Homo sapiens: one gene and its partner. The protein of the gene in region 1 interacts with the protein of each later gene in a biochemical or structural test. Each region holds a gene or a part of one and is shown on either strand. Other genes may lie near its edges.

Region 1 (10,983 bases):
GACCACTAACACAGCTGCATTACATTGTCTACTCAGTGTTGCTGACTATATATAATGTGTATAGTTCAGTGACATTGCCAAAAGATGTCCTGAAGAATCTCAGGTAACTGGCAATAGGTTGGTTTTTCAGTCTGTTTACTTCCAGGAATGGATTCTTTAACAAATTATCCATGTGAGATAGAACTCATTGTGAATGATAAAGATATTTCTAAGGTAAACCTATGGTTAAGAAATAATATTTAACTCCAAATACGAAAGGATGCTTGACTAAGGCATAATTTATGTACACAGTAGCTTTTGTTCCTCAAGCAATGAAGTATACGTGAATTCTGCACCTAGCCGTAATTAGCTTTAAAAAGCCAATTACGGCTGGGTGCAGTGGCTCACACCTGTAATCCCAGCACTTTGAGAAGCTGAAGTGGGAAGATTGCCTGAACCCAGGAATTCAGTACCTATCTGTGCAACATAGTGAGACCCTGTCTCTAAAACAATTTTTTTTAATTAACTGGGCATGGTAGCACATGCCTGTGATTCCAGCTACTTGGAAGGCTGAGGTGGGTGGATCACTTGAGCCCAGGAGGTCAAGGCTGCAGTGAGCTGTGATCACTCCACTGCACTCCAGTCTGGGTGACAGAGTGAGACCGTGTCACCAAAAAAAAAAAAAAAAATTTTTTTTTTTTTAAAGAGAAGCCATATACAGTAAAATTTACCAGTTACCATAGTACTTGTAAACTTTTTGCTTTTTTCATTTAACATTTTGCCAGAGATGGAACTTCTAATCATCTTTAGAACTACCTACAGGAAACACTGAGTATTTTGAATATTTAGTTTTCCATGGTAACTTTTGACCTTGTTTTTGCTCTGTTTCACTTAGGACAAGATGACCTCATCCAGCATCAAGATATGAGGATCTTGGAGCTAACGCCAGAACCAGACCGGCCTCGAATTCTGCCTCCTGACCAACGACCTCCCGAGCCTCCTGAACCACCACCAGTCACTGAGGAAGATCTAGATTATCGGACAGAAAACCAGCATGTACCCACCACCAGTTCTTCATTAACTGACCCTCATGCCGGAGTGAAGGCAGCCCTGTTACAGCTGCTTGCTCAGCATCAGCCCCAGGATGACCCCAAAAGAGAAGGTGGGATTGATTATCAAGCAGGAGACACTTACGTGTCCACTTCAGACTACAAGGACAACTTTGGATCCTCTTCTTTCTCTTCTGCTCCTTATGTTAGCAATGATGGTCTAGGAAGCAGTTCTGCTCCACCACTAGAACGACGTAGTTTCATTGGAAATTCAGATATTCAGTCTTTGGATAACTACAGTACTGCTTCATCTCATTCTGGTGGTCCACCTCAGCCTTCTGCCTTTTCTGAGTCATTTCCCAGTTCAGTAGCTGGATATGGAGACATTTACCTCAATGCTGGTCCCATGTTGTTTAGTGGAGACAAGGACCATAGATTTGAATATAGCCATGGTCCTATTGCAGTCCTGGCAAACAGCAGTGACCCTTCCACGGGGCCAGAGAGTACTCATCCTTTGCCAGCAAAGATGCACAACTATAACTATGGTGGTAACTTACAGGAAAATCCGAGTGGCCCCAGCCTCATGCATGGACAGACCTGGACTTCTCCTGCCCAAGGACCTGGATATTCACAAGGATACAGGGGACATATTAGCACATCAACTGGCAGAGGCAGAGGCAGAGGGTTACCATACTGAGTATCTGTTTTTCCTCAGGCACATCATTTTTATCTGGAAAGACTTTTCTAGCTGCAATTTAAGGCAGCAATCCAAGAGACTTGAATAATAATAATTCAACAACAGCTTTATTTTTATGTGGAGAAGGGTCTTGCATACAATAGTTTAAAAAAGACAAAAAAAACCTTTGCTTAAATTCATGCTGTTCTAAAAACTAGATCGATTGTACATCTTCACAAATTCTAGTTAACAATTTTATTTTGTATTCTTGCAGTTTTAAGTGGATGCTAATTTTAGGGGCATAAGCCTTTTATGGCCCTCTTGCAGATCTTCTGAACTATGCACATTTGTGCTTTTTTTGTAAGTTTGGACCAACTTTTATGTAACAAACAGCCCCTCCCCACCTCCAGTTTTACAACAATCAGAAAGGGCACTGATTTATTTGGTATTTTTCTTTTTACAAAGCTACCTTTAGTCAAAGGTCACTGTCAGTCTTTGCACCTGCTTTCAGTGTTATTGTGAAAGGTGTACTTTGTGCTCATTTCAGAAAATAAAACACAACCTTTCTCTTGATGCAACAGTTTTATAAAAAAAAAAATGGTCAACGTTATTTTTGTTTTGTTTTGCAGATTATCAAAGCCTAGCAAAATGCATTTAAATGAAATAGTGGGTTTTATATGAAAACTATGGGTGGGGTGGGGAGGGAAAGTAAGTGCCTTAACAGGTAAGCTTAAGGTCTGAAAAAAATAGTTAACTTTTACCCCCATTTGTCTTTTAAAGGGAATCAATGCATTAAAAAGGCAAGAAACTCTGAAGTTTCAGGGGCTGCCTGTTCAGTTCCTGTTAGGTCCATTCCCTCTGCTTGTCACACTTTCTCCTTTTCTGCCTGTCTTTGGGCTGTGTTGCCTTTCACTACCACCTTCTCTTGATAGGGGAGTGAGAGCAAAGAAAGGGAGTAGAACTGCAATCAGTACATATTGTTTGAGAAGTTCTACAAAGTTTTGTCATTTAAATGGTTGAAAGTAATAGCTCCAGGAGAATTTTAGAGTACCATTTTCTTTCAGGCTGCCATATTATCCCTGTTTCCATTTGCCATGGATAATTGGAGGGTCATGGTATAGAAGCAAGAGTTAATAACAGAACTTGCCTAAATGTGTTAAAGTTCATGGGGGAGGGGTGGCAAATACCGTATTTTAAGTTATGCAATTGCCCTTTTAAGAAAGTCAATTCTATTCACTTGTTAACTAGAAACATTGCTTAGATTGAATTTATTGAAGCAAAAAGAAAAGGCAATGAGAGAGAACTTTTATCTTCCTTCCTGTCACATTCTGTAAAGTTGATTATGACTTCTGCCAGACTTAGAGCAACAACTTTAGTTCATTTTAACATTTTTTTTTAATGAAGAGCATCAAAGAATGGAGTAGTCCTTATTTAAACTGTAATGGTGTCAAGTCTCACTGTGTGCACACTCTCACACATACACACACAATTATACTAATTCTAGAAAGGAACCAAAGGTAAATAACCAGTGTTTCCATTATCACTAAATGGAAAAATTGACTGGAAGTTAGAGTTGTGCCAATTAATCATTTTGTTCATCAACTGTTCTGGTAACTTATTTTTTTTTATTGGAATCTTAAATTGGAACAACTGTTACAGAATGTATATTGCTCCAGTTCTAAAGCCAGTTAACCCTGTGCCCTCTAACTTATGAACCTTCATTTCAAAACAGTATGTGGGAAGTCCTGTAGTTTGATAAGAGTAAAATTATTTTAAAGAGGATAATTTACCATTTTACTACTATAAAATAAGTTGATATCAGTTGACCATTTTATTTTTTGATGGACTCTTTTTGTTGGGAGAAAGAAATGAATGGAAGAAAAAAATATGTTGCTTTTATTTGAATATTGATTACTAACAACTTATAAACTACATTGCAGGAAATGAAGAAATATTTTGAAATTAGCAAAATAGCAACAGTATTCAAGTATCTGAAATTTTAATATGGTGAGTCTTAGAGCTTTAGACTTTCCTATAAGTGACAGTATCTAAGTTATTCTTAATAGTCACACTTGATAATTCTGCTGACCATAAGCAGCTAACCTACAGTTGAAGATATTTATGTGACATGAATAGCCTGTGTTTTAAAAATTAAATATTTTATATAAAATTGAACTGTGTTTGGATAGTTTTTCTAATCAAACATTTCAGTTATATATTTATGTTGGGAGAGTGGCTGGGAGGACAGGGAAATTGTTGCTTTGACATTGAAAATTTGAACTAGAACTTCTAATATTATCCTTACACAGCACTACTGTGAGACATACTAGTCTTTTATATGTCACTTAGAAGAAAAAATGTTGCCAATTAAGCCACAATACAATGCTAAGACGTCATCAATTGTAAGCTGCATCCCAGATTCAGACATATTATATGAAAATATGTCTTATAATTGATGAAATATGATAGTAAAAAATTTTAATGCTTCCCTTCATAGCATTTAATATTTTAATTCAGTGAATTTGGATTAATAGAACAAAGTTGGGAAATCACTAGTTCTGTAGGTTATAACAGCAGTCATCGCTGAAAATTTGAGTGAAATCTAAAGAACACAAAATATTGCTTAAATTTTTTGGAAAAAAGCAGGTAAGTCAGACTGCAAGTTAAGAAGACAAAAATATAAAAGATTTGACCTGCCAAAAGAAGAAAGTATTTATCTTCTCCCACGTGAAATTCCCTTTTGTATTTACTGACACAGCAGGTTTTTCTGCATGCAACTCAGTATGTTTCCTACGTCTTCATTATTTGTTGGAGAGTTGCAAGTCATTTGTGAAACCTTAAAATGCCAATTTTAAGGAGTTGTCATTTGTGGAATGTGAAATAAGGTAATAATTCTAGCTGTGATTCAGAGCTTTATTCTGTCAGCAAATACATAGTCAGTGCCTACAACATGCCAGGTAGTAATCTAGTCCTTGGGGTACATCAATAACCGTCAACAGTGTTAAATCATACTTTCAGTGTGCTGACAGTGAGCAAGATTTTTTTAAATGTCTGGAGAAGTTAGTGGTATTTGCTACCCTCAGCTGTATCTAAATTGCACTTAAGTGAATGTAGGGCATGAAAATTTGAGTATCTTTTTGAAATTTTAAATTGAAATTTGGATAGAGATGGTTATGGAGAGAAATCAAACAACTGGAATAGCTGTTTGATATCACTTAAAAGTGATAAAATTTTAAGTTGAATCTGGTCAGTTTGCAATGGCCTATTTGTAAGAAATATCAAGACTTCTTGAGAAAAATGAAAAGTGAATACATAAATGCTTAAAATCTGGTACTTCTGAGTTAAGGTTTTGCTCTTTGAGCTTAATCCAATTTGGGATGATTTTTCATCCTAGGGCTTTTTGTTTTCCTTTTTTATTTTTATTTTTTCTTTTTTTAGGGGAAGGGGACTTGCTTTCTTTTCCAAAAAGGTGAATCCTTCTTGTAGGACATAGGTAAAAAAAACAAAGCTGAAATATATGTTTTGAATATAGATAGCTAATTCCCTGGGATATAATATCCTTTCAATTTTTTTTTTTTTTTTGGCCCAGTCTGCCTTTTGATGTTTTAAAAGTCTGAACGAGATGTCCCAGTAACCTAAAATTATCCAGTCGGTCTTCTTACTTTACAACTAAGAAAAATAAGGCTTAGAAAGAGGGATTGCCAGAAACTTTGGCAGCTGGATTGCCTGTGCTTGTTCCTCTAAGCCATACCTAAATTCTGCAGTAAATACTTAACTTTTTAATAGGGAAATTGCTTCAAGATAACTTGACCAGTGATACGGTAAAATAATTAGACTATTGGACTAATGGTTTAACACAAGTGGCTTTAAAAAGTCTGCTTAAAAAACAATTTTTATTTAGAAAAAATAGAAAAATAAAAACATCTTCAAAATTTAGGAGCCTGAAGGGGCTGTTTGTTTCATATATGGATAATCTTTGAAAAGGCAAGTCCTGTATGTATTTTTCATTTGTTGAAAGAAGATTGGTTATCAGTAGGCTTGCAAACATAATTTGCTTTTAAGTTCTTTCAAGGTTTTATGCAATAAAACCTATTGATTTGGAACTTTAAAAAAAAAAACAACAAAAAAATACTTTCAGGGTTTTGTAATTTCAAGTGGTTTTTTAAGGGGAGCAATAGTTTGCCATTTACCAAAGGCTTCTCCAGATAATTTCTTAAATGTTTCTACTTAAAAATAAAAGCTATTAATAATAAGCTGTCATGGGATCCATTTGAAGACAGGGAAAATAGAAAATTTTTATTGTAAAGGGAAGAACTTATCCTTTTAATTTTATGGACTAACAGAGTCTGCAGGTCTTAACTCATTTCAGCCTGTCAAATGTGCAATTAAAAATGAATTTTCTAATTGTATTCAAATGAGGCTCTATAGTGAATACAGAATCACTCTTCTAAGTTTTTTCCCAGTTAATTTGTTTAAAAGTGTTGTACTCTCTTGCAAGAACGTTTAAAAGTTAAGTCTTGTAACTGTTAACATCTAATGTATTAATATAAGCCATTTGTTTTTTACCATTTTTTTAAGGCCGTATTCAATAGTCTGTAAATAAATTGCCGTAACACTCCCAGGCCATTTTTCAGCCTTGTTTGCTTTTTGCTTCTATCCAGAACAGACTTTTTGAAGTAATCTTATCTGATAAAGATGACCACTTGTAATCCACTGTGCCGTTTTTTTGACAAAGGTTAAGATGTGGAATCTTTTTTTTTCTTTTTATAATTAGTACATATTTGGAAATAGGAACACAGAGAAGAACACCCCCAGATAACCACATAATATTTTGCCTTTGATGGATGTATTTGAATGCATATCTTGTTTTTTTTTTTCTTAAAACAATGGGATCATACTGCCCATAGCTTTGTAATTTGAATTTTTTCATTTAATAATATGTTGTGAACATCTCTTGGTATCAGTCAGTTAAATTCTATCCTCTTTCCCCCAGTCTGGAATGCAGTGTCGACATCATGGCTCACTGCAGCCTTGAACTCCTAGGCTCGAGTGATCCTCCTGCCTCAGCCTTCCAAGTAGCTGGGACTACAAGTATGCACCACCATGCCTGGCTAATTTTTTAAATTTTTTGTAGAGATGGAGTCTCCCTGTGTTGTCCGGGCTGGTCTTGAACTCCTGACCTCAAGCAATCCTCCTACCTTGGCTTCCCAAAATGCTGGGATTAAAGACATGAGCCACTGCGCCCAGCCCACCCTCTTTTTAATGGTTGTAAATTATTGCTTTATAGAGGAACCATACTTTCACAATTTCTCATTGCTGGACACAATATTTTGGACTTTTCTGTTACAAATAATGTGATGAAAATCCACAAAAATACATACATACACACAAACATAAATCAATTTCCTTGGAGTTGCTGGTATAAAGAATGCACTTTTAAAATGTTTGCTAGATCCAAATCGCTCTAGGGAAAAGTTTACCAGTTTCCCATTCCTGTTCCTTAACCTTTTCATTTAGCCATGTTGGGTACTTAAAAGTTAGAGATCTTTGTTAGTTAGACAGGTGATAAATCATCTTGTTTTAATTCATGTTTCTTGGATTACTAGTGAAGTCCAACACTTCATATGTTAGCCAGGTCTTTTATTAACTATTCAGATGTTTGAAAACTTTAACAGCTGATCCTAATATTATGTATATATATAGTATAATGCATACATGTATACATATATAGTATGTATATGTACATATCTATATTGTATATATGTATGTATATATTGTAAATATGTATATTATGTATGTATATTGTATATATTTGTTATATATATTTGTTATGGGAAAATTTTAATATGTAGTTAAGTCTGTTAATCTTTTCCTTGTTTCTCTTTAGAAAAGCATTTAGAAAAGCTTTCCTACTCCAAAGTTATTTAAACATTTACACATATTTTAGTATACATTTAATTCTAAACCATTCTATATTTTATAGATGTTTGTTTTGAGATATGGATCCAACTTTACACTTTTTTTTTAATCTTTATCTTCTGTTTACAAGTCCTACACTTGTATCATTATAAACTAGGCATCTGACATTATGTGTGTGTGTTTTAAAAATAATTTTATTTTCAATTCCTAGAAAATGTGTACCACATAAAATTTGTCAGGCAGAACTTTAATTTAATTGTCCCCTTTTCAGAGTTTTCTATTCCTGTTTATTTTTCCATGTGACTTTCAGAATCATTTAGATTATTTTCTCAAGTATTCTGTTAGGATTTTGGTTGGAAACATATTAAATGTTTTTTACTTAGGGGATCTTTCCATTGAGAGCTTAGTAGAATTGTTTTTTTACATGTTCTCCATTAAGAGTTCGAACTGTTTTTTTTTTTTTTTTGAGACAAGAGTTTTACTCTGCCGCCCAGGCTGGAATGTGGTGGTGTAATCTCAGCTCATTGCAGCCTCTGCCTCCCAGGTTCAAGATTCTCCTTTCTCAGCCTCCCAAGTGGCTGGGATACAGGCCCCTGCCACCACACATGACTAATTTTTGTATTTTTAGTAGAGACGGGGCTTTATCATGTTGGCCAGGCTGGTAAGGGTTCCAAAATTTTCTTCATGTTCTTTTTTTAAGTTTCCAAAAATATTTTTGTTGCTTTTAGATATGGACTCCTCGTATTATAATATTTTTAACTAGTCACCACTTATATTGTAAAGCTGATTCTTAATTGTTGTTGTTAAACTGGCCACATAACTTTTATTATCATTTTTAATAGTTTTCAGTGAATAAGTATAATGGCATTCTTGTTTCTGATTTTACTGATGTCTGATTTTTAGTGTTTCAGTCGTGTAATTTATAGGTTAAAAATAGAATATTATGTTTAAGAAGAATCTTTTTTCATGAAGCCTGCTTATTAGGATCAGCTGTTAAAGGTTTTTTTCAAATGACATTATATGCAATTGCTCTTTTGACCTTTTGATGACAGAATAGAATGTAATAACCATTAATTTAAAATGCTGTTATATTCTAATTCCTAGCCATGTATTTAGGACTTTGTATCTATGTTTTGTATCTGTGTTAATTTTGATTAACAGGTTATGACAGATTGGCAGAATAAGCTGGAAAACTAATGTTTTATTTAGAATATAGATCCTGCTGGGTGCCGTGGCTCACGTCTCTAAACCCAACACTTGGGAGACTGAGGCGGGTGGATCGTTTGAGCTCAGGAGTTCAAGACCAGCCTGGGCAACATAGTGAAACCTCGTTACCACCAAAAATACAAAAAACTTAGCTGGGCATGGTGGCGCATGCCTATAATCCCAGCTACTCGGGAGACTCAAGCAAGAGAATTACTTGAACCTGGGAGGCAGAGGTTGCAGTGAGCTGAGATCATGCCACTGCACTCCAGCCTGGGTGACAGAGCAAGACTGTCTCAAAAATAATAATAGTAAAAAAAGCGATGTTTTAGTTATCTTAACTATTGTAATTATTTCTAAAATGTTATCCAGCAAACATACTTGGGGTAGAATGTTAGACATTTATTTTAAGATGAGGAATAGACAAGGATGTCCATTATTAGTTACTGTTCAGGTTGTCAGCATTTTTGAGGGATGGAGGAAGGTAGAGAAGGGTTTGAAAAGGCATAATTTTATTTATTTATTTATTTATTTATTTATTTATTTATTTGTTTGTTTGTTTGTTTGTTTGAGACAGGGTTTTGCTCTGTCACCCAGGCTGGAGTGCAGTGGTGTGATCATAGCTCACTGCAGCCTTGAAATCTTGGGCTCAAGTCATTCTACCGCCTCAGCCTCCCAAACAGCCGGGACTTACAGGCACATGTCACTATGCCCGGCTAATTTTTAATTTTATTCTTAGAGACAGAGTCTTGCTATATTGCCCAGGCTGGTCTCAAACTCCTGGCTTCAAGCGATCCTCCCAAAGTGGGAGGCCACAGTGGGAAGATTACAGGTGTGAGCAACTGTACCCAAACAGAAAAAATTATTAATGGCAGACTTAAGTGATTGTCTATGTAAAGCACACAAGATAAACTATTATTAGCATTGATAGATTTGTGTGAATTGCTAGTAACTTTTACAGTAGTCTCCCCTTATCTGTGGGTATGTGATCCAAGACTCACCACTTAGTGCCTGAAACTGCAGATAGTACCGAACCCTGCATAATACTGTTTTTACAATCTGATAACCGAGGCAGCTACAAGTGACTAATGGGCAGGTAGCATCTACAGCAGGTAGAGCCAGGATGGTGTGAGATTTTATTATGCTACTCAGAACTGCTCACAAATTAAAACTCATTAATTGTTTCTGGAATTTTCCATTTAATATTTTCAGACTGCAGTTGACCTCTGATAACTGGGGTAAGCAAAACTATGGATAAAGTGGAACTACTGTGTGTAGAAGAAGAGGCCATGAATAGCTAAGGTAATTTCAAAGAACAAGATTTTGGATTTGTTCTACCAGATATAAAGATTCCTGGGACAAATGATTATCTACAAGAAGAAATAGGAAGAGGCAAATTTTGAAAAAAAAATAACACATTTTCATAGATCTGAATGGGAAAACTTTAAAATACTGAGAAAGAACAAATACACTTTGACTAGCAACTCCACTTCTGGACATATATATATTTAGCTTATTTCTGTCTGTATAATTTTATATATAATTATAAAGTGAAAAAAGGTAAATATCTTAAATATTCATTTGTAGGAGAACAGTTAAATAATATGGATAAAAGTATAGAATGACTCCATTGTATTAAATAAGTATTTCTATATAGTGCATAGAGTATTTGAAAACTGAAACTGATTGTGGGTTATAATAGAGCAGATTGTTTTAAAAAGAGACTTGTGAGCCAAGACTAAATCCTGGTTTTACTATTTATTAATCTGTATAGCTATAGCCAAGCTATTAAAACTCCCTTATTTCTCAGTTTTTTCGTTCATGAAGTGGGTACAGTACCTAAAGGTTTATGTTGAGGATTAAGTAACTGAATAGTGCCTTGTACATACTTCAGGGCTCCCTGAATGTTTGCTGTTGTGACTGAGAGAAGAACTGGGTGGGAGTGGGGAAGGGGGAATTTTGCTGCTGCTTTGATGCTTATTTTTTATCTTGATTAAGAAAAATGTATTTGTAATAAAATAAATTTTTAAGTAGGAATTTATGGGTTCCAGTCAACAAAGCAACAATATTCACTCTTGAGACTTTCCTTCCGGTTTTAAACTACTTTCTGTCTAGTTCCACCTTAAATATCTGATAGAAAAAGATTAATGAAGAACT
Region 2 (11,158 bases), on another chromosome or scaffold:
ATTGAAAAAGTTAAGATTTCAGAATTAGGAGTGTCATTCCTTCTTGGTACTTGAAAAGGACAGAAATGGGATACATATATATATATTTTTTTTTAACCATGATTTATTTTGATATCTTCAGTTAAAGTTTAACATTACAGATTTGTTTCTTAACATTTGGTTTTCTGCATGTGTGCATTTGTTTTCTTTGCACTGAAAATCTTGGTTCCTAACAACATTAGCATTTACATATTTGCTTTATTCCACAACATGCAAAAAAAAATGTGTTTGAAAATTACAACATTAATGACACTACTAACAGTACACTAATGAAGTTTTAAAATTTCGTTGGGGCCAGCCACTGTGGCTCATACCCATAATCCTAGCACTTTGGGAGGCTAGGCGGGAGGATCGCTTGAGGCCAGGAGTTCGATGCTGCAGTGAACTAGGATCATGCCACTGCACTTATAGCCTGGGTGACAGAACAAGACTCTGACTCTAAAATAAGTAAGTAAGTAAATAAATAAACAAATAAATAATTCTTTTCAGTTATTTTTGTCCTTAGAATATATCTCACTAAGCATGTAACAATATCAGAAATTACTTGGAAGTAAGTTTCTGTGTGATTTTGTTGCCCATTTGGTTTGAGTTTTAGGATTTGCTTTTTTATTTTTAGTTAAGTGTATGAGTATGTTAAATATTTACATGATTCAAACATCAAAGTTATAAAAGTACTCTGCAGGGAGTCAAGCTGAAAGAGCACCTAATGGCCACATTGGAATAATTTGAGCAACAAAATAAATAATGATAGTATTGGATTATAACCCAAAGAATAAAATACTCATGTCTGTACTAAAGTAAATAAACAAATGGGAGAGAAGAAACAAATATTAACAAAATGATTCCAAATAATAAATGTTGAAGCAGTGAAGGAAATAGAAAGTCACCATTAGAACACCACAGTTGTAATCGTCTCAGGTGAATGCTAAAATTAGTAGATGAAACTTGAAGGAGAAATAGACATTTGTATAGTATTTTGCATTGTAAAATATTTCCCCCAAAATATTTACTTACTAGTGGGTGGTTTTAACATATGTCCACAATTTCTTTGATATCTCTGCCTCCAGAAAGTAGAGCTTAATTCCTTTACCCTTGAGTGTGGGCTGGACCTCGTGACTTGCATCTAAGGAATAGAAGATAGGAAGGGAAAAATAATAATTTACAGTGAGAAACCTGGTAGACTCCATCTTAACCAAGAGCTCATGGTTAACAGCAGTAAGTTGTTCTGATATCACCTGCACCCAAATATGATGTGTAGTTAATAGTGGTTATACCAAAGTTAATTTCTTTTTTTGGATAAATGAACCATGGTTATGGAAGATGTTTACATTGGGGAAGCTAAGTGAAGGGTATAGACAAAACTCATCTATCTTTACAGCTCTTCTGTAAACGTACAATTAGTTTAAAATAAAAGCTTTCATAAAAAGGCAAAGCTGTATAAAAAGATATATACATAGAGAAGTCTTGTTTCCATTCCTGTCTTTTCCATCCTGTTTTTCCCCATTCCTTATTGGTAAATATTTTTTGAATTACTTTAAAAAAATAGAGATGTCTGGCTGGGCGCGGTGGCTCACACCTGTAATTCCAGCACTTTGGGAGGCCGAGGCAGGCGGATCACGAGGTCAGGAGCTCCAGACCATCCCGGCTAACACGGCGAAACCCCATCTCTACTAAAAATACAAAAAAATTAGCCAGGCGTGGTGGCGGGCGCCTGTAGTCCCAGCTACTCGGGAGGCTGAGGCAGGAGAATGGCGTAAACCCAGGAGGTGGAGCTTGCAGTGAGCCGAGATCATGCCACTGGCACTCCAGCCTGGGCAACAGAGCAAGACTCCGTCTCAAAAAAAAAAAAAAAAAGAGATGTCTGTTTTTTCCCCTCCTTTCTTACATAGATGCTAACATACTGTGTACACTATCCTATACCTTGCTGATCTGGAAATTTCTCCATCCAGTACTTAACGATGTTTCTCATTCTTTTTAATAGCTGTGGGGTATGCTATTGTGTGCATGTGTCATATTTTACTCAGCCAGTCCCCTGATGATGGGCGTTTGGGTTGTTCATAGTTTTGCCATTATAAATAACACTACAGTGAATAATCTTGTGCACATGTTGTTTCATAGTTGTGACATTTCATAGTTAGGACAATATTTTCAGAGTCGATTCCCAGCAGTGGGAATCCTGGGTCAAAGAGCAAATGCATGTGTAATTTTGTTGGATATCGTCAACTTCTCTGTGACAGTTGGACCATTTTGTACTCCCACCAGAAGCTTATAAGATCACCTGCTTCTCTATAGCTTTGCCAACAGAGCAAATTGTCAAACTTTGGGATTTTTGCCAATCCAGTAGGTGAGAATTGTATCTCAGTGTGATGTCTGATTATGAACAGGTCATATTTTCTGAGGTTTTAATTAACTGGTCTCCCCCGCCCTTTGAACAGTGCCCAATTTAATCAGTCACACACAAAAATGTAAATTATTAGTTCAAGCTTTTCTCCAGGTACTTAATTCTTCCTCTTGGAGGGAAGATCAGATTTCCTTCAGAGCTACCAGGTGCAAGGAGGAGAATATTCAGCCCCACCATGTCACCTTCCCCACCAGAAATGAGGCAGATACACAGAAAAGGTTAGGTTTCCAGATGAACTGGTGGGAGCCCTGGCCCAGAACCTGGCCACAGAGCTGCTGTTTTCTTGCTAACCAGACTAACCTGGCTCCAGCCAGCTCTTTCAGAACCCTTTTGATACCTTATTTGAAAGTATCTGCTGTCTCTGATCCAGGTTACAAATGACTTATTTCTAACAGTGGTCTCTAGATGAGATCCTTCGTTGTTGTTGTTTTTTTCTTTCTTTCTTTCTCTCAGCATGGAGCTTTTGGAGAGTGTCTTTATTCTGAGTGAAAGAAAAGGAAGAGGATGAAAAAGCAAGAACAGTTTAAAGGAGCTCCTTCTCTCATGGACCACTTCCATCCACCCACTCCCCAAATCACAAGATGCACATTTGGTTTACATCAGTGAATTCAGTGATTTGTGCAGATGTGAATTAACCCAATCCCATGACTTGTCTAAGTGAAAGTGCCTACATGGAATAAACTGAAAAGGGGTGCTGGATGGAAGAGATGGTTAGTTTTAGAACATAAATCTTTGTCAAGATTAAGACAGGCCCAGGTTTTGCTGAAGAATGGAATCTGGACCAGCGTTAGAGGACCTGTATGTCTAGTGAAGAAAAACCAGAAGAAAGTGAGATATACTTCGTTTCTTCCAAAACTTTGTCAAATAAGGTTAACCCTTTAATCTCAAGAGAGAGGGAGGAAATAGTCTTATTTTTAAACTACCATGAAATTTGAGATTTATTAATATTAGTACTGGGGTCATCTTACAGTATTGTGTTAAATTGGCTCTGGAGTTAGCCCGGGCTTGTAACTGGCAATTGACAGTGTGGTTTCTATAGGAAATAGTGATCCCAAACCAGGTACAATCTATGATTCTAGATTGCTTATAGTATGGAGTATTCCTTTCCAACTTTGTTTTTCTCTTTCTCATAGGATTCTAACATTTTCAGAGAACCTTTTGGAAAGAACAAGCCTACTTCAATAAATGAAGGAGAATAAAGAAAATTCAAGCCCTTCAGTAACTTCAGCAAACCTGGACCACACAAAGCCATGTTGGTACTGGGATAAGAAAGACTTGGCTCATACACCCTCACAACTTGAAGGACTTGATCCAGCCACCGAGGCCCGGTACCGCCGAGAGGGCGCTCGGTTCATCTTTGATGTGGGCACACGTTTGGGGCTGTATCCTGACTCTCCTTGGAATCTGTTACAGATAGGCTCCCCACTCACCACCAAGAAATAATTAGATTCTGTAGACAAAATATATAGTAATTTCTCTGTACCAGAGCAGTTCTTAAATATCTGTTTGAATGTTGTTTCTGGTGGGGGTTTTTCTCTTTCTGATTTGTCATTTTAAAGGTGTAGACTTAGCCACTGAGGAGGTGGCCAGCCAGGAGGATATGAGGCACCCATTAGGATCACAGTTGAGGCTGGGCACAGTGGCTCATGCCTGTAATCCCAGCACTTTGGGAGGCCTAGACAGGAGCATCCCTTGAAATCTGGAGTTCGAGACCAACCTGGGCTGCAGTGAGCCAAGATCACACCACTGCACTCTAGCCTGGGTGACAGAGATGCTGTCTCAAAAAAAAAAAGATCATAGTTGAAGTGTTTCTAAAGGGTGTTAAAAGTATAAAACTTCAGCTTGCTAATTCTTGTACCAGAATTCTGACACCCTGAGATTCCCATCTCATTACTTTGCCACTAATATTGTTTACTTTACCATTGATTTTGTTGTTGTTGTTTGTCTTTTTGTTTTTCTACATTTAACTAAGAGTATAACCTGTAAAAGTTATTGGTTAGAGTCCTTAACCAGAACAACAGACACTATGATACCCTGGCAACTGGAATAATTTATTTTCATCGCTTCTATATGTTTCATTCCTTCAAGCAATTCCCAAGATATGTAAGTGTTTGAATTTTATTGTAATTCTCTGTCATATGTTATTATTTCCACACAGTTTGGTGGACTAATTATAAGCTCTATTTTTCTCATATTTTCCAGAAAGTATTTATTTTTATATGGTATATACTGCATATAAACAAAATCAAGTTTGAACTTTTTTTATTCCAATTAGCCATGTTCAAATCTTTTCACTTAGGCCAATATGGACCATAGTCATATTGCGCTTTGTATGAAAGTTTACTCCCGTGGTACCTTTCCCAGCATAAATTTGGGCTTATAATTGAGACTCAACAAAGACCAAGAAAGCAAAATGGAACAGAAGTTGTCTATGCCATATCACTCATTCTTCGGTTACTCCTCAAGACGTGCATTGTGTCTTACTCTCTGTGGGAGATAGAGTAGCTTTCAGTCCAGGATAAGTGGTATGACATGCACAGAACACGTGATGGAAAGTGAGGCCATCAGAAGATACTGATAAAAGAGTTGTGGCATTCAAGGAGGAGACAACTTACATCTTGGAGAGAGCAGGGAAAGTGCTAGGAAGAAGGTGCCAGCATTAAGGTAAGCCTTAAACGTACATAGGGCATAGCCATGCCGTGATGGGCTAGGTCAGTGGTCCAACAGAAGCTAGCATAAGCAGAGGCAGGGGGAACCATGTGACACATTGTCAGCCCAGCCAGGAGCTTGATTTGGCAGGAAGGAAATGATGAGACCCTGGGTGGATAGGTAGACTGGGTCAGACCACGATAAGCCTCGAATGCCAGACTTCAGAAATTTGGCTTCAGTGGGTGAACAATGCAGTAATTAAAAGGTTTCGTGAAAATGACAGACTTAACATTAAAGTCATTGTGTTGATTTGTTAGCTAAGATTTTAGTTAGATTTATATACATGCCTTCCTCACTGGTTGTGAAGTTCTTGAAGAAGGAGACCATGTTGGAATCAGTTTTGTACCCCCGGCAGAGTGTCTGACATCTAGTGTGATCAGGATTATGTGAGGAGAGTGGCATGTAGGAAGGATTGGAGTGGGCAAAGAGAAGCTGAAGACAGAGCAGTTCAGACCCCAGTGATATAGGGACTGAGCTAAGGTTGAGGCAACTGGAGGGACAGTTTCTTCATCCATTCAGGCTGCTATAACAATATGCCTTAGACCCAATAATTTACACACAACAGAAACTTAACTCTTCACAGTTGTAGAGACTGGGAGGTGTAAGATCAAGGTGCTGGCAGATTCTGTGTCTGGTAAGGGTTTGTTCCTCATAAAAGGGCTCCTTGCCGCATCCTCAAATGGTGGAAGGGAGGAACAAGCCCCTTGGGCCTCTTTTATAAGGGCAGTAATCCCATTCAGAATCATTTCCCAAAGGCCTCACTTCTTCATACCGCCACCTTGGGAATTAGGTCTCAAGCTATGAATTAGGACATAAACATTCAGACCATAGCAGAAAGAAAAGGAAGCATGGGCAGTGCTGAGATGGATTCCACAGGACTGTGCTAGAAGGAAAAGGAAGCATGGGCAGTGCTGCTGAGATGGATTCCGCGGGACTGTGTTTAGTTGTGCTCTTTCTTTTTCCACGGCAAAGCTTGCTGTTTAGGGAGTTAATTTCAGATTGGAATATGAGAAGAAAATTTATTTATGTGACTCTTTTCCTTTTTGGCATTTTCTTTGTTTACATGACTTTTTTTTTAAGAAAGTTAAATTTTAAATAATTTATGAAGCTAGAGTTTGGGGGATTTATATGTATAAAATTTCCTTCAAGCTTCTAGAGTATCGGAGTATTTGTGAATGATAAAAAGAAAGGTAGGGGAATGAGGAAGACCAGTTTATTACGAAGGCCAAAATTTATTGTATCTATTTCTGTGTGACCTTTGATAACAAAAATCAAGAACTTTTGTTTCCCTTTTAGGTGACAGGAGCCTGTTGCCTCTTTCTGGCTGGGAAAGTAGAAGAAACACCAAAAAAATGTAAAGATATCATCAAAACAGCTCGTAGTTTATTAAATGATGTACAATTTGGCCAGTTTGGAGATGACCCAAAGGTAAGAATGATAATAACTTCCTGCCTTCTGGTCTTGATTCCTTATGGTAGTATTGTACAGTTCCACATGTTGACAGTGCCTGTAGCCCTTGTGTCTGCCAGTCTCTTGAGTTCCTAAGAGGGCCTTCTGTAGAAGTTACTTGATGCTTTTGTAAGAAAGGAGGGAAGATCGTGTAGCCTACACTTACTCAGTGCTTCCTTATGTGCCCAGCAGTATTCTAAGTACTTTGGGGCAGTGGCACATTTCATGGATATGAGCAAAAATCCTCTTAATTGCCATTAGGACTCTGCTTCTTAAGTGCAGTGGTGATGGCAGGGTTACAACTCCAGCTAGCTTCTGGGTCAAACAAAAGTATGTATGCTGTATGTACACATACACATGCCTACATATGCCATGTGTCTTTTGCTTCTAAAGAATGTTGGAAGGTATCAACATTTGCAGCATTTTTATGCACCCAGAGCTTGATACTGGTCACACCAGCCATCCTATCTTTTCCATACAGCTCACGCCAGTGTCAGCAAGTGGTGCTCAAATAATTGTACATATTTTGTTGTGTTTTTAAAATACCACTTTTAGGGACCCATGGCAGTGTTCCTCCACTCCCATTCGCATCAAGTTCCCCTTGTTGCAACCTCAGTAACACCTGTTAATTATCCTTCATAACATTTATCACAGTTTGCAATTAAATAGATTTTCAAAAATACTTTAGGCCAAGCCGGGCAGATTGCTTGAGCCCAGGAATTCAAGACCAGCCTAGCCAACATAGCGAAACCCCATCTCTACTATATAAGAATAAACTGGCCAGGCGTGGTGGCTCACGCCTGTAATCCCAGCACTTTGGGAGGCTGAGGCGGGCGGATCACGAGGTCAGGAGATCGAGACCATCCTGGCTAACATGGTGAAACCCCGTCTCTACTAAAAATACAAAAAATTAACCGGGCGTGGTGGTGGGTGCCTGTAGTCCCAGCTACTCGGGAGGTTGAGGCAGGAGAATGGCATGAACCCGGGAGGCGGAGCTTGCAGTGAGCCGAGATGGCACCACTACCCTCCAGCCTGGGCGACGGAGCAAAACTCCATCTCAAAAAAAAATAAATAAACTAATATTACTTTAAAAAAAAAAAACCTTTATTATTTTTTGCTGGGCATGGTGGCACGCACCTGTAGTCCCATCTACTTGGGAGGCTGAGGCAGGAGAATTGCTTAAGCCTGGGAGGCAGAGGTTGCAGTGAGCCAAGATTGCGCTACTGCACTCCAGCCAGGACGAGAAAGCAAGACTCCACCTCAAGAAAAAAAAAAAATGCTTTTTTTTTTTTTAGAGCAGTTTTATGTTCACAGCAAAAATGAGTGGAAAGTACAGAGATTTCCCATATACCCCCCACCCAACACATGCACAGCTTCCCCCATTTTCAGCATCCCCCCGACCAAAGTGGTACATTTGCTATGACTGATGAGCCTGCATTGACACATCACCCAGAGTCCAAACTTTACATTAGGGTTCATTCTCAGTGTTGTACATTCTGTGGGTTTGGACATACGTATAGTAACATGTAGCCACCATTATAGTATCATGTAGTCTATTTTCATAGCCTTAAAAATTCTCTGTGCTCCACCTGTTTGTCTCCTTCTCCCCGCTAACCTCTGGCAACCACTGATATTTTTACTGTCTCTATAGTTTCACCATTTCCAGAATGTCATCGAATTGGAATCATATAGGATGTAGCTTTTTCAGATTGGTCTCTTTCACTTAGTGGTGTGCATTTAGATAGTAGTATCCATTAGATGATTTTTATCAAATTATCACACACATAACTCCCTCCCCTTCTCAGCTGTAAGATGCATGAAAGCAAAGACTATCTGTTTTGTCTAATGCCTCATTCAGTGGCAGGACAGAGTAGGCATTCAGCAAGTACTCGTGGAATAAATGTCAAACTAATGGTCTGAGGAAATTTCTAAATCACAGTTAAAGCTAAAGCGATGAAGTTCAGCCCCATTCATGGTGTTGTTTTTCCTAACTAGCTTGTATTGTCTCACAATAGTTATCTTTTTCTCTGCCAAGCATTATGTATGTATATACAAAATGTATAGTCATTCTCCTCATTGCTTTGAGGAGTTAACAAGGGCCCAGAACACTTTTATACATATTGTGGTTGTGATTAACACTAGTATTTTCTAAGTATTGCCAATGTGGGTAACTCTTTTGAACTTAATTATAAATCCATTAATCTGTTTATAAACATTTGAACCTATTAGGAACTCATATTAACTATAACCAAAAATGCAGTTTTATAGAAATAATTTCACCATCAGATAATGTTTTCAATGTGCATGGGTATTTGATTTTTACTGAGTAGTGGGGCCCTGTGTCCTAACGTGATAAGTCTGATTGTAGGAACATGCTGTGGTTCAGTCACACCCCCGTCACAGGGGCAGGTGAACCTTGTGGCTGGCAAGCTGTGCTTAAGGATAAGGCATCACACAGATCTGGGACCACAGCAGGGCATGGACTCGTGGCAGCTGCTGGTTTGTGCCATCCCAGGGTGCCTTGGAGAAGCCCCCTTTACTTTTAGCCTTTACCCACTGTACCATGAAGTCAGGAAACCAAGCCCCAGTCCAGGAACAGTGAAAGTAGAAGTTCTGAAGCTCCTGTGCCCCAGAAAATGGGAAAAGAGGGGTCACCATACCAATTAGGTCTGAATGGGGGAGGGGGCTTTGCAACCTGCCCCCTGCCTCTCTATCTCGCGCAGTCTTCCCTGGTCGGAGTCGGGGCCAAAGGAAAACACCTGGAGCTGGGAGCAGTGAAGACATTGGGGAAGATGTTTTCCTCTGCAGACAGGAGGGCAATTCTTTAGTGGAGGCAGTATAAGTATTTAGGAAAAATAAGATCATGAGTCCCATGGAACATTTTTTGCCTTAATTAGCTTTATTTTAATTGTGTGGCTTTTCTCTGTAATATTCGTTTCAGCCTTTGTGTTGGGCACTAGACATGAGGCACGAGGCAGAACAGACATGGTCTCTGCTCTCATGGACTCTGCAGTTGAGTGGCAGGATAAATTTTAATCAAATGAGTATATAACTATTTGATGATGAGTTGTGGTGTACGCTGTAAAAGGTCATTTAAGGTGCTGTGATAGCATTCCACCCAGGGACCCAGGCAAGTCCCCCGGATAAATAGGGGCTGAGGGAAGGCGTTCCTGAGGAATGATGTTTGCTCAAAGACCTATAATGACCCCATTAATTGAATATTTGGAAGACAGAGGGAGGGCAGGCCCTGGGCTATCCTGTAACAGTATGTGGGCTACAGCCTGCAAGCCAATTGGTACACTTGGTAAAAAGAATTGTTTCTAAATTTAGAGGAAGTGTTGAAGCTTCTGGGAAGCAGGTGGTGACAATGACATTCAAAGAAAAAAATTGTTTTGTTTTGTTTTTTGAGATGGAGTCTCACTCTTGTTACTCAGGCTGGAGTGCAGTGGCACAGTCTCAGCTCACTGCAGCCTCTGCCGCCCAGGCTCGAGCGATTCTCCTGCCTCAGCTTCCCAAGTAGGGGACTACAGGCGCCTGCCACCATGATTGGCTAATTTTTATATTTTTGGTAGAGGTGGGGTTTCAGCATGTTGGCCAGGCTGGTCTTGAACTCCTGACCTCAAGTGATCTGCCCGCCTCGGCCTCCCAAAGTGCTGGGATTACAGGCATGAGCCACCATGTCCAGCCCAGTTTTTTTTACACTGTGTGAAAGTTTCTAAGATTTTAAAAAACTTTCATGAGAAAATGCTTGGGAAACTAAGATTGAAAAACCTTAGTCTTGCCATGTAATTTGGAATAATAATTATAGAATCATCTCTGTATCCTATAAAATAATACCATGCTTCTAAATGAAAGCCAGTGACCTGTGGGTCTCTGCACCTGTTGATGAGATTTACAGTCCTCTACAACGCCCTGTCTTTGATGCCAAACAAGGAATTCTCTCAAATTGTCCTCCCCGCACACAGTGTCTTGGTTGTGGTTTATGTTGTCTTTAAGCAGTAGGTACAGTCGGCTGTACAGGGGCTGAGTTCAAGACATTAGTTAGAGAGTATCATCAAAGAGGACATTCCATTAACGATAGCAACAGTAAAATATCCAAGGTTAAACCTTGTGGAAACCTCGTTAGTGGGGTGGAAAGGACTTTAAAACAACTAAAGGACTGAAAAGATATTAATAAATTTTTGGAAGGAAACTTCAATATGGTTAAAAATCTCCATTCTCCCTAATTATTCTATAAATCCTCTGAGTTTCCAATGAGAATATTAATAGCATGTATGTTTTCTGTAATGATACTAAGTAAAATGGTTACTAAAATTTGAGTGAGGGGGACATGCAGAACCCAGAAACTGTTTGAAAAAGAGAAGTAATACTGGAGCTATTGTATCCCACCCAAATCCCTTTGATCCTGGTCCAGGAGTAGACAGGCAGATCAGTGAACAGAAAAGATAGTGTGTGTGTAGGCAGACATACACACGTAGTTTAGGAGGTGATTTAGGTAGCATTTTAAATAAAATTGGAAATGATCATTTATTCAGTAAGTGTTGTTGGGATGATTTATTT

What was found.
Region 2: the proteins of CDK13 (region 1) and CCNK are reported together in a solved structure, tested with the Homo sapiens proteins (one study listed by IntAct).

What each region holds. Positions count from the first base shown.
Region 1 is NC_000007.14:40,093,256-40,104,238, forward strand, and holds the end of CDK13 (cyclin-dependent kinase 13), read left to right. Parts: intron 1-874; coding exon 875-1,725; 3' UTR 1,726-6,325; downstream 6,326-10,983. UniProt on the Homo sapiens protein: Cyclin-dependent kinase which displays CTD kinase activity and is required for RNA splicing.
Region 2 is NC_000014.9:99,489,053-99,500,210, forward strand, and holds part of CCNK (cyclin-K), read left to right. Parts: intron 1-2,893; exon of another isoform or gene 2,894-3,268; intron 3,269-3,573; 5' UTR 3,574-3,625; coding exon 3,626-3,822; intron 3,823-4,461; coding exon 4,462-4,543; intron 4,544-6,445; coding exon 6,446-6,577; intron 6,578-11,137; exon of another isoform or gene 11,138-11,158. UniProt on the Homo sapiens protein: Regulatory subunit of cyclin-dependent kinases that mediates activation of target kinases.